Linked DNA regions of Homo sapiens. The protein of the gene in region 2 purifies or fractionates together with the protein of the main gene of each other region. This does not show direct contact. Each region holds a gene or a part of one and is shown on either strand. Other genes may lie near its edges.

Region 1 (4,684 bases), on a different chromosome or scaffold from region 2:
CAGAATAATAAAAGTTCTCTGTCAAAGACTTAGGAAGGGAGATTTCATCCCCCAGCCTTGCTAGTCCTACTCTTTGTGCATTCTTAAGACAGGAGGCAAGTGCTTTCCATTCTCCTTGGAAAAACTGAGGCTGAATATGCAGCTTGTCATGCAGTTTTGCTGAAGACAGAGAGAGGGTCAAAAATTCAAAAACTCAATTGCTCTAGGGCAGGGGGTTGGGAGCAAAGCCAATAAATAAAATGGGTGGTATAAATGCCTTTCAGGAAAGGGTGTGAAGGGTGGGGTGGATTTACCAGAAGCTTTGGCAGTCAGCTTTGAAGTCTTCTGGAAAGGAAAGTGTAGCCTCCCAGGCAAGCAGCCTCATGACATCTTCCATAAGGCTGATGTGTTGGGAAACAGCAACACATGAGCAAGAAGTTCCTTGAAAAATTTTCTTCCCTCCTTCTTCTTCTGGAACTGTTGGGAAACTAGATTAGACCCAGGAGTCTGGTTTTTGAGAATGGCCCTGAATGAATTTTTAGTTTCCGGGTAGGAACAGAGAGCTGAGAAGGTTGTTTTCTCCTCCAAGGAAATCTGGCCACAGTTTTTTTCCTGTTCTATCTAGAGCTTGTGTGCTGGTGGATTAAGCACATGTGTGCACAGGGCCAGGATTCTGGCAAACAATCTCAGGGAGGATGGCAAAAGGAGAAGCAAAAGGGGTTCATTCCTCTACCTCACAGCTTCTTTTCCCAAAGGAAACAGGATCTACTCACCAGCAACAATCCCAACATCACAAAAGGAACAGGGAAATAAACGTGCATACAACTGGGACACACAGACCCCTGTCACCTGCTACAAATGGAGCAGAAGTGGGAGAGAAGTGAGCCACCGAGAACCTAGGCCTTCTTAGCTGTAGCCTACTTGAAGAGGGCACGGGCTTCCTGACTGGTCTCTGGTGGCCGAGTAACTCTACTTCCCTGACCTGGGAAGAAGGCGTGAATAACCAGCTAAGAGGAGACACCCATCCTCTTAGAGTTGCCTGGGGTATCTGAGGCAGAGGTGGTAGCAGCAGACTCCTCAACAGAGGCACTGAGATCCAAGAATTCCAGGATGATGTCCCCAAGGCAGTAAATCAAATGCCTGAAACGAATGGACAAAAAACTTAGGGTCTGGCTCAATCAGGAAACACAAGATCCTGTTTATGACATTTATTTTCTCCTCCCCCATCACCGACACCCTAAACTTCAATAGCTTGATGAAACCTCTGCCATGAAATTAATGTTTTTTGAACTAATAAAGCCTCTGACCCTAATAAAGGCAAGAACAGTTTTTATATAAGACTAGTTTTATATAAGACTAAGTTTTATAAAATTCCATTTCTCTTTACATAGTTACATTAGCACTGCTCTGAAGAACTGTGATAACAAATCCTTGAGATGTCAGGTTACTAGACACTTTCAGAGCTCCTGACTACTGCTGTTTCTCATAATTAATTACCTTAAATTTATAGGCTGCCTTACAGGCAGTGAGGTAAAGCCAGGATCCTTGAGGAAGTTAACGAACACAGTCTACTTTGGGGTAGGGTTTGAGTGCAAGGTTACTCAATACTTCCAGAAGAGTAACAGCCCAAGGGATGGAATCTACCTCTTCTGGATTATTCTAGGACTCTTCACCCAGCATTTCTGGTCCCTTTATGAAATTCCAACCTTACTATCTTGTCTACCTGATATGAAGCAAAGACAACTCCTGGTCTTGACATGAATCACAGCTTTGCTATAAGGCCAGGGCTCATGGTGAACATCTTTACATGGTCTGTGATACACAGGCCAGGGTACGCTCTTGGAGCATTCACAGGGGCTGGCAGATGTTGGAAAGAGCACTGAGCAAGTATGCTGAACAAGCCTGGAGGATAAGAGGTCATTTTCAGCAGCTCATGTGGGGGCCTGCATAGAGTTCTTCCAAACACAAATGGTGGGTGGTCCAAGAGTGATTTCCTAGCACATGACGACCTGCTCAGAAGCCTGATGGTGTGGATTTTACTTAGAGTGTGTGGATCTGGACGTCAAACTCTGTAGTCAGTGCCCAGAGCAAGTAAAGACTACAATCCTATTCTTTGGAATGTGGGCTTTTCACTCAGAAACCTTGGATACCTCTGAGACCAGAGGTGGCTGTAACTATGCTGATGTTGGAATAACATTTTCCCACTTACCTGTTGATGAGGGGTTGTTGTAGTGACTCCAGGACTAGACCCCAGCTCAGCCGGCATTTGTTCACCCCAAGAATTTCTACTACGAGATCTGAGGAGGAAAAAACAGATGGAATTTGCGTGTTATCACTGAAGTTTTAGATTCTAAGGACAGTCTCTCCCCAGGATCTCTGCCGTTTTTACATAGGTTAGGTATTTCAGGCCTACCTCTAAACCATACAGCCAAACTAAAATCCTCACAAAACAGGAAAAACCTGAGAAAAATATGTTTCTCAAGTTAGGTGTCTACATAAGAATGGGCTTCAAAAATTATTTTGTAACCTGTCACTCAAATGCAGGTACTCCTTCCAATGTAACAGTTTAGGTTGGCAAACAGAGTTATAATAATAAGGGTAAATAAAACTGATTGTCCAGAGCTAAGTTCACAATTGTTTCCTGGTTATCACAGCCATAGGCAACAAACTGCCTTCCTGGCCCTCTAAAAACACAATGCAAGGAAAAACAACCTTCTCAGATTTTGTTTTAACTTATTGCTAAAGGCCATGTACCATACTCAATGGCTGCAATTTATTAAGTTGGAGCTTCTGTGAGACATGTGATTTTCTTCCTTGGTCCCAAAATGCTATGAATTGGTAGAGAATCTGAAGTCTTCATCTCCTGGAAATGGCTCTGAGACCTGTCCCTGCAGGCAGAGCTTCCCCAGACCTGCCAGCAGGTAGAGAGAAAGTTATTAACCTAAATATCTGCAGGATTGTCACCTAGTATTTAGGGTGCAGCTGTAGAGTTCCTTTCCATTCCCTTGGCATCAGCTGAGCAATGGATAAAAGAATTGCAGCCCTGTTCATTTTCCTATTAGCCTGGGAAATGATGGGTCAACAGAGTTTTGAATCTAGCCACATTCAGGGCCCTTTTACAAACAGGAAAAGGTGCAGGGGTAATGGTGGCAAAGCAGAATGGAAGAGAAATGTGATTGGTATAATTGATCTCATTGGTCCAATTACCTGGGAGGACTCCCATCAGGCTCTGCAAAGCCTGTTTCTCAGCAGCCAGTTTCTGCTCTTGGGTCCTTACGGGCCGTGGAAACTTAGGCAAAACTCCACCAGGCCAGATGGACTCCTGAAGAAGCAGGAGGTACTGCACCCAGCGCTGTGGACTTGTTAAATTAGCTACCTGCACCTCTAGCCACCTGTGGTAGAAGAGAGACGAAAGCTTAGATAAAGCTGAAGGAAAGGAAATAACAAGGCAGCGGACTGACTGTTTATGTTCCCCTGCAGATTCGTGTGTCAAAATCCTAACCCTCAAGGTGATGGCAGTAGGAGGTGGGGCCTTTGGGGAGGTGATTAGGTCATGGGGGCAAAGGTAAATGCCCTTATAAAAGAAACCTGAGAGAGACTTCTCACCCCTTTTGCCATATGAGGACACAGGGAGAAGACAGCTGTCTATGAACAAGGAAAAGGGCCCTTGCCAGACACCAGTTCTGCTGGTACCTTGATCTTGAACCTCCCGGCCTTTAGAAACTGTGAGAAATAAATTTCTGTTGTTTATAAGCCATTCAGTTTATGGTATTTTGTTATAGCAGCCCAAACAGACTAAGATACCATGAATTACATGAGCAATCAGAACAGGACAAAGTCAGCACTGACTCTTGCAAAGGAAACCAAGACAATTCAACAGCCTGGGATAACAGAATTTGAAGATGAGTAACAATAAGAATCGTGTTATTTATGGAGCGTTCACTATGTGCCATCTACCGTACAAGAAGTTTTACAGAACAGAACACTAAAAGGGCCTCCGTCTCTGGGTGAGCCTGCACCTATACCTTCCCAACTCTCCTCTGGCAAGGCTGCACCTATTATCTTTCTAGCTCTCCTCTGATGGGAAGCATTATAACCTTCTTGGTAACATGTACACACAGACTTCACAGCTACGGACTTAGCGATCTTTAAACAAATTCCTCTCTCTACCTCCCCAGCCATATCTTCTGGTCCTCATGACTGTCTTAGGGATTTCCTACATCTGCCCTTTGTTCATAATAGTTCTCTCACTAACAAGGGCCTCTTCTCGCCTTGCCTGAAGAGCAAGTCTCAAGTCTGCCCTTCTGGCAAGACCTGTTTCAACCCTACTTCCTCCATGAAATCCTTGACCATCACAGCTGGAAGTGCTCTCCTTCTCCATAGACCTCCTTTGGCAGGTAGCTCTGGAACAATTACTTTGGAATATGCATCTTTTTAAAGGTGTTTATAGCTTTACTTCTTCAACTAAATTATAAGCTGTAAGAGTTCTGTGTCTTGTACTTTAAAAAAACTCCCCGCCGTGCTTGGTGCTCAAGAAATGGTTGACTGACTGATAACTGTTCTTATTTCAATGAAAAATTTTCCCTTTGTCTTACTTTCGAAAATGAGTCAAAATTTTCCCTTTATCTTACTTTCAAAAATGAGTCAAAAATGAGGGGGAAGATATACCAAATCTGGAGTTCAGCTGGAAACCTAGAAAGTGGTT
Region 2 (5,400 bases):
AGGGAGTGGAGTGAATTACTCCTGCTGGGACATAGCACAGGCACTCAGGCATCAGATGAACACTGGAGGCACGGGGAGGATGTGTGGGTAGGGAGGTCACGGGCATCCAGGGTGGGGAGTGGAGGGGGCTCCATGCTGGCTGGGCGCGAGCTGCATTGGCACAAGGCATTCTCTACCCATCCAGGCTTCTGGAAAACCTTGGGTTGGACTCCGGGAGTGTGTGGTTCTTTTCCTTTGTAATTTCTCCTTTTGAATAGACCATTGACTTCCTGAACGACAACATTCGAAGAGGAATTGAGAACTACTATGATGATCTGGACTTCAAAAACATCATGGACTTTGTTCAGAAAAAGGTGAGCCAGGCGCTTTGGGGTAGAGATGCGCCTCCCGTGCTCTTAGCCCCCCATTCAGGCCCCTGCTCAAGAAGATGGGGTGAGGGACCAGGTGACTTATCCATTCCCAAAGCAGGTGGCTGGCCAGATTGGGAGGCAACAGTGAGCATGGATGGCCCACCAAGGATGGGGAAGCCAGGGCCCAACCTATTCAGCCAGTCCTCTGCCCACATTCCTGACCCAAAACCTTCACACCCTTCTGTTCCTCTCCAGTTACACTGGCTTCCTGCCCCATACCCCCAAATAAAACAAAGTCAGGTGTTGCTACAAGCAACCTTGCAGGGTCCCAGGGCACCACCCTCCAATGGGCAAGGATCCTCCTTCCTTGAGGTGTGAGCAACCTCAAGGGGAGTAACCTACCCCAGTCCAAAGCCCCCTCTGCCAAGTCTCTTCAGTGACAACTCACTCCTTGTCAAGTTAAAGACATCCCTGATTGGGAGAAAGTTCTTCACTAATTTCAGTTTCCCCCAAATATGGGACAGTGAACCAGACGCCTCTCTTACTTTCATGACACTTCCTTGAATGTGATGATGATCCTATTCCTTTTGGGACACCATCTCTCCCCTCTAGGTCCACCCAAATCTGTTGGTGCAATAATAATAATAATAATAATAATAATAATAATAATAATAATAATAATAATGGCAGTGGTAGGGCCAGCTGCTGTCCTGGGTGGCTTTTGTACATCAACTTCACTTGGTCCTGAGCCTCAGCTTCCTCACCTACATAAGGGGAATAATGACAGGAGCTCTTGGGGCGTCGTCATGAGGATTACCTTGACTTAATTCAGGAGACGTGCTTAGAACAGTGCCAAGCACAGGGTGAGACCACAGTGCCAGCTGTGGGGATCATTGGTATGTTCTCCTGGGTGAGGACAAGTAGAGTGAGGGCTGCAGGCCCACTCAGCCGGGACAGCACTTCCTGGGACATAATCTTGGGGGCCTCAGCTGGCCTGGATCCTTGTGCCAGCTCTCAGTGGGGACTAGCCTCTCCCCACATGCAGGGCCACTTGCTGTGGCCGCTCCCTTGGCCCAGACTTTCTCTTCAGTCACAACAGGTGCAGCCTCTGGAAGGTCTTTTTCTGCCAGGGATGTGCCTGCCAGCTTGGGCTGGGAGAGCTGACTTCTGCTCCGGGTGGAGTGAGATGTTTTTATTGGAACCAGCCTTTAGCTGGCTTGGGGATTTCATTTCTCCTGGCATAGAGGTAGGAGGTGATTAATGCTGAATGGGCACTTGCTTGGTGCCAGGTCCAGTGCTGAGTGCTTCATGCATGGCACTCTATGTAATCACAGCTCAGCTGTGCAGAGCTGCCATCCTTATTCTTGCTTTACAGACAACCATCTGAGGCTCAGAGAGGCTGACCAACTTGCCTGAGGTTGCACAGCAGGGAGTGGTGGTCTGAGGATTTGACCTTGGGTCTGTTCCATTGCAAGACAAATGCCCTTTGAACTACATTGCAGAAAGACAGTTCTAGGTCCCAAAACCTGGTGGCTTAAGGGGCACTGTGGGGACTCTGAAAGGTGTCTGGCTACCAGGACGTGTACTGCAGCCCTGGTTGAGCCCTCCAGTCCCAGCTCCCTGCTTCAGCTGGCTGGCAAAGCTTTGCATGGTCCAGCCTGTGCCGCCCTTTCATCCTCATGCTCTGCACTCTCTCTGTTCCAGGCTTGTTGGCCTCCGCACCTGCTGCTGAAATACAAGCTTGTTTCTGCGTGGGGCCTTTGCATGGGTCGTCTGGCTTCTTTCTGTTTCCATGTTTCAGATGAAATATCCTCTCTACAAAGAGCCCTTTCATGACCTGCCAACCTAGAGCTGCCCCTCCCCACTTTCCCCCTATTTCTCCATTTCCAGGTTGCACAGCACCTTTCCATCCAGTGCTCACTCTCTGTCTCTCCACTGGAATGTGTTCCACCTGAGCAAGGGCTGCCTTGCTTTTGCTCACCCTGTCTCTCCAGTGCCCAGGACAATGCCAGGCACATACCAGCCATCAGGAGGGTTACCAACTACTTCCTACAGGAGCAGGGAGGGGAGGCAGGGAGGGGCTCGGCTAAGGGGAGAGCTCCAGGCAGGTTGTGAGGTGTGGGTGCTCTCCTTGCTAAGGGCAGGGCCAGCTGAGCTGGACGGGGTGGCTCCTAGGGTGGGTGCGAAGGTTGGTTGAGGTGCAGGGACTTTCACAGAATCATGCTTGGTCTCTGGGACTTTAAGGGCCATCTTTTCCAGCCTAGCACCTGCATTTGGGGACACGAAGATGAAGAAAGTGGAGGCCAGTTGTCAAGGAAGGACCTTTCCTCCCAGTGCCTAGTCACTACCCTGATATCCCACCAAGAGGCAGCCCAGCCTTGGCTTCCATACCTCTCTAGTGACAGGGGGTTCACTACCCTCTAGGCAGCCATGCCACACTTTGACAGCTCTGACTTGAAAGTGTACAGCCTCTCCCTGCCCCAGGGTGACCCACATAATAAACTGCCTCCGTCTCCTGACAGGGCCCCTTCCTGTCGTCTGAGCAGGGCCTGGGCGATGACGGCAGCTCCTCTTTCCTGCTTGCTTCCCTCAGTTCAAGTGCTGTGGCGGGGAGGACTACCGAGATTGGAGCAAGAATCAGTACCACGACTGCAGTGCCCCTGGACCCCTGGCCTGTGGGGTGCCCTACACCTGCTGCATCAGGAACACGGTAGACACTGCTCCTGTGGGGACTGGGGGGCTGTCGGGGACCCCAGGTGGTATAAATGTTCTCTTTTCTCTCTTCCCAACTTGAAGATGGGTGGTGTGGGTGGATGGCAGGGAAGTAGGAGTTGGTGGCAGAGCGGAGGCTTTCCTGATTCTCAAGGGCTCCTGAAAGTGGAGCTTCTGGGGGTCGGGGGTAGGGAGACCATGTCTTTCTTAGTGGTGTTGGTTAAAATCTATTGAGCACCTACCTTGTGCAGGCCTGCTCTGGGCACTTTGGTGGTATTTACTCATTTAGTATTCACGACAACCCTGTGAGGTATGTACTGTTATTTTACCCACTTTACAGATGAGGAAATTGAGGCACTCAAAGGCTGGGTGTCTTGCCCAAGGTTGGCAGGGCTGGGATGAAGTGCAGGCAGCTGTTGCCTGAGCTACACTCTGGAGAACTGTGCAGGCCAGGTGAGGGCAGGAGGGAGAGGTGCCCAGGCCAGGGGAGCTTAGCGGGGGTAGCTGGCTCTGCAGCATTAGTGGAGGCAGGCAGGACCTGCACCTTGGGCATCTCCATTGGTCTTTGGCCTTGAGGTCCTGGTGATCATCAGCAGCAGAGTGCTTGGAAGGGGGTCTGGTGACGTAAATGCCATCCTCTTCCTCTCCCCAGCACGATCCTCTCGGGTCTGTCACCTTGGTCATTTGGGATGATGTCTTGTGTTGTCAGCGCTTAAGTGAAAGGCTTCATCAGTCCTTGTGTTTGACAAATGTGTCCAGAAACTGTTTCAGGATTGGAACGAGGTGGAGAGCTTTGCAATTACTCATGGCCCAGATAGTCATGGAAAGTTTTTCTCCTGACATTGCCACCATTCTGTGCCCACTGCTGGATTCTGTAAACTGAGCAGCTGCGGGTGGGGGCCTCGCCCATGAGTCAGAGAGCCAGTGCCAAGTGCACTAGCTCTAAAAAAGGCCGGGCCAGGAGGGAAGCTTTGTTTGGAAGTGTTAGCTGCCATTTTAGGGTAGTTCTCTGGGAAGTGGGGTGCTGAGGAGTAGCAGAGTTTCCAGAGAGGCCTGCGTGGGGTGATCCTGAACCTCATCACCCAGGGCAGCAGCATCTGAATACCTAAGCTGAGATGTGGAAGCCAAACTTGTATTCATTCATTCATTCATTCATTCAACAAATATTGGCTGAGAACCTACTCTATGCCAGACACATTTCCAGGTTCTGGGGGTGTAGCAAACAAAGTCTCTGCCCGCAAGGAGGTGACATCCTAGTGGAGAAAACTGACAAACAAAATAAGTAAAAGATAGAGGATCATAAATGCTGAGTAGAAAAAGAAAGTAGGGCATGGAGGATTGCAGTTTGGGATACTGAGAAAGGCGGGATCTGGGTGAAGCTCTGAAGAAAGTGAGGAAGGTGTCTGGGGGAGGGGCATTCCTGGCAGCAAGAACAGCTGTGCAAAGGCCCCAGGTGGGAATCACCCCAGGGCGTTTGAGAAATGCACAGAGTGGCTGGAGCAGAGGGAGCACAGCGGAGGATGGTAGGAGGTGGAGTCAGGGAGGTCATGGGTACCCCGAAGGCCACAGGCAGGACTGTGGGGCACCCTTGAGTGATGGACCATACAGGGCTGCATGGAAGAGGGGCACTCTGACTTGGTTTTACAAGAATCAGTCTGGCTGTTGTGAGGGACATGCTAGATGCAGGGATAGAGTTAGGGGCTGATATGCAGTGATCCAGGGGTCATAGGTCATCTTGTCCAGGAAGGTGCTCTTGGATCAACACCTGTGGAAGTGGGAGCCAGAAGCGGGATTGGGCAATGAAGGGAGTTGAGCAGTGATGCAGCCTCAGCTCAGTTCGGCTGGAGGCCTCAGCCACATCTATGAGGACAGCCCTTCAGAGTTGTCCCCTACTGGGGTGAGGGGGCCAGGCCTTCACACTCCCACCCACATTGACCAGGCATTGCATGAGTCCAGTGGTCCACCCAAGAAGGGACTTGCTGGCTCTGTTCAGCCAAGAACAGACTAATACAGCAAGAGGAAAGAGAGGGATTGATTGATGATAAGGAATTGGCTTGTGTAATTATGGAGGCGGGCAAGTCCCAAGATCTGCAGGGTGAGTCGGCAGGCTGGAGACCCAGGAGAGCTGAGGGTGGAGTTCCCATTCAAAGGCTGGTCAGGCTTCAAACCTAGGAAGAGCCAGCATTTCAGTTCAAGCCCGAAGGTAGCCAAGCAGGGAGAATTCTCTTATGGTCACTGAGGAGAGGGCAGTCTTTTGTTCTGTTCAGGCCTTCCCTGATCAGATGAGACCTCTCCCCCTTGGGCAGGGCCATCTGCTTTACTTAGTCTGCTGATTTAA

Evidence for each region. Proteins that work in one complex are often made in the same cells at the same time.
Region 1: the proteins of TSPAN15 (region 2) and SNX19 purify together in Homo sapiens (affinity purification with mass spectrometry; one large-scale study listed by BioGRID and IntAct). This does not show direct contact.

What each region holds. Positions count from the first base shown.
Region 1 is NC_000011.10:130,877,436-130,882,119, forward strand, and holds part of SNX19 (sorting nexin-19), read right to left. Parts: exon of another isoform or gene 3,372-4,684; coding exon 3,187-3,371; exon of another isoform or gene 2,277-3,186; coding exon 2,189-2,276; exon of another isoform or gene 1,120-2,188; coding exon 987-1,119; 3' UTR 1-986. UniProt on the Homo sapiens protein: Plays a role in intracellular vesicle trafficking and exocytosis. May play a role in maintaining insulin-containing dense core vesicles in pancreatic beta-cells and in preventing their degradation. May play a role in insulin secretion.
Region 2 is NC_000010.11:69,495,337-69,500,736, forward strand, and holds part of TSPAN15 (tetraspanin-15), read left to right. Parts: intron 1-257; coding exon 258-353; intron 354-2,872; coding exon of another isoform or gene 2,873-2,943; coding exon 2,944-3,060; intron 3,061-5,400. UniProt on the Homo sapiens protein: Part of TspanC8 subgroup, composed of 6 members that interact with the transmembrane metalloprotease ADAM10.